Homo sapiens: one gene and its partner. The protein of the gene in region 1 interacts with the protein of each later gene in a biochemical or structural test. Each region holds a gene or a part of one and is shown on either strand. Other genes may lie near its edges.

Region 1 (3,748 bases):
TAGGTGTTGAGGGCAGCTGGAGTTTATTCTTTCACCTGTGGTGTAGCATGCATATATTAATAACTTTTTCACTATCTGTTTGTGTTTTAATAGCTCAGCTTTCACAGCTGACAGGCATAAGAAAAGAAAACTTTTGGAAAACTCAACACTAAACAGCAAGTTATTAAAAGTAAATGTAAGTAATTAAAATTTATTCAAATATAAGAGTTAGTTGAGATTTAATCACTGTTTTGTTACAACTCTAACATGTAATGTTACCTGTTACAGACTTTTATAAATGTGTGTCTTGGATTTGGAGTATTTTACACAATGTTTGCCACCTGTACTGTCGATTGTTGCCGTGACCCCAGTGAGTCCATCTGTCAGCACCTTCTTCCCATCAGCGTTACTGCTGTGCTCCTCTTCCCTAGAAAACAGTTCACTCTTAATACTTGCTCACACTCCTTCGTCATCAGAAAACCCAGCCTTTGTTTTTAAGACTAAGTCTTTAGCTTCAGGCGGCTTTTCCTTTTTTTGAGATGGAGTCCCACTCCGTAGCCCAGGCTGGAGTACAGTGGCGCAGTCTCGGCTCACTGGAACCTCTGCCTCCCAGGCTGAAGTGATTCTCCTGCCACAGCCTCCCAAGGGGGTGGGACAACAGGTGTACACCACCACGCCTGGCTAATTTTTGTACTTTTATTTTGTTTTTGTTTTTGTTTTTTTTTTTTGAGATGGAGTCTCACTCTGTCACCCAGGCTGGAGTGCAGTGGCACAATCTTGGCCCATTGCAACCTCAGCCTCCTGGGTTCAAGCAATTCTCCTGCCTCAACCTCCCAAGTAGCTGGGATTACAGGCACACGCCACCACGCCCGGCTAACTTTTTCTGTTTTAGTAGAGACGGAGTTTCACCGTGTTGCTCAGGCTGGTCTCGAACTCCTGAGCTCAGGCAATCCACCCACCTCAGCTTCCCAAAGTGCTAGGAGTACAGGCATGAGCCACCACACCCAGCCTTTTTGTATTTTTAGTAGAGACGGAGTTTCGCCATGTTGGCGGCCTGTCTTGAGGCGCCTGGCCTCAGGCAGCTTTTCAAGATTCATATCCCATTGTTAGGAAAACGTGTATTGGTCGTTTATGTATGGCTTAGAGTTAAAAGTTTGGGGACAAAAATACTTGGGGTGTATATATTTATATTTTTTCCATTTCTCTTAGTTTTTATAGAATCTTAAAAAGGCATTAAGTCTTAAATGTTATTTTAAGGATTTCCTGTTTTTTGCATTGTGTACTCCATGGTACTCATTAATGGTGATTTCCTCATAAGCTTTCAATAAGATACTTCTATTTAGAACAATCCCAGGATCAGAAACAGCCTTCTAAAAATATCCAGACATTTATACAGAGACTAGAGAGTTTGTTTGAAATATTCATTGGACAGAAAAGGACCAATTCCAAATTGGCTTGGTGCTAGATTTCAGAGGCCTTTCCTTAGCTTTGATGTTTGAAACAGTTGGCCTTCCCTTGGCATTACTGATGGCCTCTTCTTGCACCACTTACAGGGAAGCACCACTGCCATTTGTGCCACAGGCCTTCGGAATTTGGGGAACACATGTTTCATGAATGCCATCCTTCAGTCACTCAGGTAACGCTACAGTCAGAGCTTAAGTGTCTGACATTAAAGGTTAAGAGCACGGGCTCTGGCTCCCTATCTCGTCTGCCACTAACTCTAGTCATATGGTTTGGAGCAAGATACCTTAATTTCCTGTGCTTTTGTTTCCTCATCAGTAAAATTGGGGACAGTAGTTCCTACCTCATGGGGTAGTTGGGAAGATTGAATAATGTAATTTGTCTAAAGTACTTAGAGCAGTGTCCTGCAGTGAATAGTTGTTTGCGGTTATTTCCGGTTGCTTTTTGAATAGGCTAGAACTGAGGTCAGCAAACTTTTTCTGTGAAAGGCCTGATAGTAAACATTTTAGTATTTCAGGCTACAGTCTCTCTCAGATATCCCCCACCCCCCCGCTCTTTATTAAAACAACACTTTAGGGCCAGGTGCAGTGGCTCAGGCCTGTAATCCCACCAGCACTTTGGGAGGCTGAGGCGGGCAGATCACCTAAAGTCAGGAGTTTGAGACCAGCCTGGCCAACATAGTGAAACCCCATCTCTACTAAAAATACAAAAATTAGCTGGGCGTGGTGGCATGCGCCTCTAGTCCCAGCTGCTTGGGAGGCTGAGGCAGGAGAATCGCTTGAACCCAGGAGGTGGAAGTTGCAGTGAGCCAAGATGGCGCCACTACACTCCAGCCTGGGTGACAAAGCGAGACCCTGTCTCAAAAATAAATAAATTAATTAATTAATTAAATAAAACAACACTTTAAAAATTTAAAACTCGCTTTAAGAGCTGCCTGGTGGAGGGCTAGATTTGGCCTGTGGGCTACAGTTTGCAGACCCCTGGGTTACAGAGAGCCTTGTTCAGAGAGCTTATTTCAGTCATTAGTTAAGTTTTAACCCATTTATGTCAGAGGTTGCAATTTTTCTGTATGAAAAATCAGACGTTGGTGATGACCTCGATCAGTAAGATATAAATAACTCCCAGAAGCTTAGCGTTCCAATAATGGAACACTAGGCATAAATGGGTTAATCAAGGTCATAAGATGAGATGTCTTCAAAATATGAGACAAGTAGTAAAAATAAAATAGTCAACAAGGCTGACTTAAGTTTTGTAGAATAAATTATTTTGAAAGTTGCATACTTTTAGATTTTAATGAGACATCAAAGGCCAGAATAAATGATCTTCCCAAGGTTACATTGCTGATAAGAAGCAGAAGGCATATTTGATCTCTCCTGGAAGGCACTGCCTCTTAGCTTATCTCTTCTTGCTCAAAGAGGAAATTATAATTACTACTGAATTCTCCTTAGGATTCTGTATAGTGTATCAAAATAATATGGTCGGTTTCATGGTTTGTTTTTATTTGAGGAAATTATTGAATAACTGGAAACAAGCAACCGAAAAGAAAGAAATGGTGACTACCTATAGCTGGAGGGAGAATTGGGGATTTTTTTGAAAAGAGATTTTGTTTTCAGCTCTTTGTTTTTTGTTTTTGTTTTTTTACAAAGTCATCTGTCTATACTGTTTTCTTAGAGAGAAGGAAAAATCATAATGAAGAATCTGAATGCAAGAGATTGCACTGAGTACAGTTTAAATGAGACAATTGAAAAATGGCAGTTTCAAAATGTATATGTAGGCTTCATCAACTTTCTTTACAGTCCTATTCTTTTCTTTTTAAAATATTTTTCCCTTCCTTTTAAAATAGTAACATTGAGCAGTTTTGCTGTTATTTCAAAGAACTGCCCGCCGTGGAGTTAAGGAATGGGAAAACAGCAGGAAGGCGGACATACCACACCAGGAGCCAAGGGGATAACAATGTGTGAGTTATAAGAGTATGTCCTTTCTGGCTTTGAGTTACAAAACAAATTACTTTCACTGGTGGTTTCCATTGTACTAAGTGAGCTAACAGGCACATGCCTTAAAAAAAATCTTCTAAAAATTGTGTTTAAATATCTAGTTAGCAATCTTAATAATTGTTGGAATTCCGGCCGGGTGTGGTGGCTCACGCCTGTTATCCCAGCACTTTGGGATGCTGAGGCGGGTGGATCACCTGAGGTCAGTCAAGACCAGCCTGGTCAACATGGTGAAACCCCATCTCTACTAAATATACAAAAATTAGCCGGGCATGGTGGCGGGTACCTGTAATCCCAGCTACTCGGGAGGCTGAGGC
Region 2 (3,748 bases), on another chromosome or scaffold:
GGGGGTGGGGGATTGTGGTAGGGGGTGGGGGACTGTGGTGGGGGTTGGGGGACTGTGGTAGGGGGTGGGGACTGTGGTGGGGGTTGGGGGACTGTGGTAGGGGTTGGGGGACTGTGGTGGGGGTTGGGGGACTGTCATGGGGGTGGGGGACTGTGGTACATGGGTAGAGGGGGTGCAGGGGAGCTTCCTGCTGAGAGGGCCACTTACCCGGTCGCCCACGTCACCTCGGAGGCCCTGGGGGCCTGGAAGGCCGGGGTCTCCCATGCTGCCCTTCTGGCCCTGGGGAAGGAGGTCCTGGCTCGTCAGTGCCCATACCCTGTCGGGTCTGGCCCGTCTGGGTGTGCCGCCCCCCATGCCAGGCCCTTGCCCCAACCTCACCCACCTGGAAGCCTCGGACACCAGGGGCTCCGGGAGGGCCTTGTGGGCCGAGGGCCCCCTGGAAGACAAAGGTGAGGTGTGAGCGGATGTCTCAGGGTTCGAGGAGTCCCCAAGAGGCCCCAGGGAGCCTGGCTCAGCCTTCCCCCAGAGTGGGTGGACACAGGAGCCGGTTCTAAGCCACCTGGCTGGGTTGCTGGGGACAAAGGCAGGGCTACCTCCCAGGGCAGTTTAGGGGGTCTCAGAACTCAGGCATACCCTGGACCCAATTTGTCAGGCCAGACTCGGGGCCAGGCACCCATGCCCCTGGCTCCCCCCACCAGGGCCCTGTGGCTGGTGCTGTCATTATCTCAGTCTATGGGGGCACAAGGCTGGGCTCAGCATAGAAGGCTTGAAAACAGGGCAGCTCCGGCCTGGCCCCGACCGTCTCCCAGCGGGTGAGGGACAAGAAGATGGGGCCCCACACCTCCTGGCATCCTAGGCTTTTGTGGGCCTGGCCCATCAAGGCAACCAAATGCCACCCCGGCCTGCTCAGAAACTGGGGCCATGTGCCAATGGCTCAGTGCTAACCCCCGACCCCGGGCCATGTCCCTGCACTCACCGCTGAGCCCCGGTGGCCAGCCTCACCGCGCTCCCCAGGCATGCCAGCATCTCCCTACAGGGAAAGGAAGGAGGGTGTCAGGGCAGGGTCTGCACACAGGCTGGATGGGGAGGGGTCTGGGGCGCCGCAGATACTCACAGGGACGCCTGGCTCTCCAGAGGGGCCGGCCTCACCCAGCTCCCCAGCTCTGCCCTGTAGAGGAAGGAGAGCTGTGAGTGCCTGCCTACACCTGCACTGGGGCCAGGTCGCTGGCCCCCCAGCCCCTTGCCTCCCGGCCCCTCGCCTCCCCTCCCAGAGAGAAAGCGGCTGCAGCCACATACCCGTTCTCCCTTCTCGCCTTTGGACCCCGCTCGTCCAGGGAGGCCCTGCCAGGAGAGAGCTTGCGGTCAGGGCTGCCAGTTACATTGCACGCCGGCAGCAGCACCCAGGGGCGTGCACGCAGGCAGGGTGCAGGGGCCAGAGTGAGTGCACCCAAAGGCAGGGCCAACTTCTCCCAGCCTTGTGGACCTGAGGTGCGGCTTTGACAGCCTCCCTGGCCTTGGATGCAGGAGCCCCTACTCAGAGCCCATGGGGGTGATGACCGCACGGCATCCAGGGATGGCCATCAACATGTTCACACATGTCCCATGTACACACGAATAAGCACACACATGCAAACATACAGGCAACCGTCCACAGCACCCACTGGGCACCAGGGGTTGTGCCAGGCCCTGATGGACACAGGCCCCAGAACCCCTCACAGGGAGTCGGCCCTACAGTGACCAACCCACCCAGCCCAACATGGGCCACTGAGCAGGCAGAAGCTGTGGCGCCCCAGGCTGGCCCCACCCGCCGGGCACTCACCGGCAGCCCGTTGGGGCCCTTCTCTCCCGGAGCACCGTTGCGACCAGCCTCTCCCTGTGAGGACAGAGATTGGGGTGCGGAAGGGGAGGCTGAGGCCTCGGGAGGCCGAACTCCCCTCCAGCCCCCTCCCTCCCGTCACACCCTGAGCCCCATGCCAACCTTCTGGCCATCGAGTCCTGGCACGCCATTCTGGCCGTCCTTGCCCGGCATGCCCTGGGGACAAGGGATGAGTAAGGCCCGTCGGGCAGTGGCCCCCCTCCCTCCCTCTACAGTCCTGCCCTGGGGGCAGCCTCCTTCCCCATCAACCTAAAACTGTGTCTGCCCCCACACCCTGGCAGTTATCTGGTTTCATGACCAAGGTGGCCGTGTGGCAACCAGTGCTGCCTCGGTGACCGCACAGGTGAGGGGTGCGGGTGGGTGGCAGAGGCGGTGCTGATGCAGTGCTGACGCCCGAGGCCTCGTCCACCAGGCACATCATGGTGCCCTAAGGAAGTTTGGTTCTGGCCCATTTTACGGTGGGGAAACTGAGGCCTTAGGCCAGGCCTGCCTCGTCCACCCTGGACTGGTTTTGGAATCAGGACACAGCCAACTGCTGGGTGTCCCAAGACAGGGCACTACTCCGGGGCAGAGGCAACACGAGGGGCTAGAAGGGAGCTCAGGTCTGGGCTGAGGGTGGGCACCCAGCAGGAAGGAAGGTGCCCGCATGGGTGCCCGGGACCCTGGGAGTGCCCACCTCTGCCCAGTGGTGCTACCCACCCACCCTTACTTCCCGTGTCCTCTGTGCAGGTAAACCCAGCCTGAGGCCCCTACTCCTGCACACTCGTGAGGCTCTGGGCAAGAGAGAAATGTGTGGGGCTGCGGGGCTGTTCCACCGTTAACCCAGATTTCAAGATGGCCACAGCAGAGGGCACTGAGCTCCAGCCCTTCTGAATGCCATCTCCACCTGTACATACCCAGGACCCGGGGGAGGAGCATTCCATGAGCAGCCACGTGCACTCACCGGCTCTCCGCTTGGCCCGGCCACTCCGGGGGTTCCCTTGGGACCAGGTCTGCCCTAGAGGACACACAAGTGACAGAAGCAGTGGCAGTCTCTTCCCAGACGGCCTCACGCATTCTCCGGCCAGCTGCTCGGGGACACCAAGGAGCTATGGTGGGCAGCGGCAGGGGCCACCCCCGACCACCACCCTGGGGCCTGTGGGTGCGTGGAGAAAACTGTGTTTGGATCCACAGATGCTGCAGGACGGCACGGCGGCTCCCTGCACTCCGGCTGCCAGGGCTCAGTCGAGGGAGGTGTGGAGGCTGACCAGTCTGGGGACGGTCACTTCAGTTCCACTCCTGGAACGCTTGGCTGCCTCTGGACTTTCCTTATGTTCACTTGCTCAACCCGAGAGCCGTTTTCTCTGGGGGCAGGATCCAAGCCCTGGAGCCTGGTCCCTCCACCCGGCTCGTGGGCCGCTCTGCAGGGGGCCACAGAGCTCCCATGTGGCTCTGGGAGAACGGCTGGGGCCAGGGAGAGAGCTCGGGCCCTCCAGGGTCAGGCTCACCCCCACGCACCCCCAGGCCCACCCAGGCAGCCCCTTGCAGTCTCACTCCCAAGTGTGTCCCCCTCCCCAGCACGAGTCAGGAGGGAAATTGGGTTCTTCCACATAAGGACCCAGGGAACCAACTTCCCTCTCACTTACGAGGTCACCCTTGGGGCCGCGGAACCCTTCTGGGCCCCTCTCGCCTCGGTCACCCTGGAAAGGATGAGGTGGGGCAGGGACAGAGTTAACACCATGGAGTTGGTCGGAGAGTAGGACGGGGGCCCCTCCAGGCCCGGGCGGGGGACAGCCCTCCAGGAGTGGTCAGAGAGTGGGATGGGGGCCCCTCCAGGCCTGGGCCCTCCAGGAGTGGTCAGAGATGGCTGGAGGTGCCAGAGGGACGATGGTG

What was found. The genes of interacting proteins can lie anywhere in the genome.
Region 2: the proteins of USP3 (region 1) and COL9A3 form a complex in vitro, tested with the Homo sapiens proteins (one study listed by BioGRID).

Annotation. Positions count from the first base shown.
Region 1 is NC_000015.10:63,556,574-63,560,321, forward strand, and holds part of USP3 (ubiquitin carboxyl-terminal hydrolase 3), read left to right. Parts: intron 1-93; coding exon 94-175; intron 176-1,532; coding exon 1,533-1,615; intron 1,616-3,283; coding exon 3,284-3,397; intron 3,398-3,748. UniProt on the Homo sapiens protein: Deubiquitinase that plays a role in several cellular processes including transcriptional regulation, cell cycle progression or innate immunity.
Region 2 is NC_000020.11:62,827,048-62,830,795, reverse strand, and holds part of COL9A3 (collagen alpha-3(IX) chain precursor), read right to left. Parts: intron 3,556-3,748; coding exon 3,502-3,555; intron 2,874-3,501; coding exon 2,820-2,873; intron 2,033-2,819; coding exon 1,979-2,032; intron 1,874-1,978; coding exon 1,820-1,873; intron 1,342-1,819; coding exon 1,297-1,341; intron 1,169-1,296; coding exon 1,115-1,168; intron 1,031-1,114; coding exon 977-1,030; intron 437-976; coding exon 383-436; intron 280-382; coding exon 208-279; intron 1-207. UniProt on the Homo sapiens protein: Structural component of hyaline cartilage and vitreous of the eye.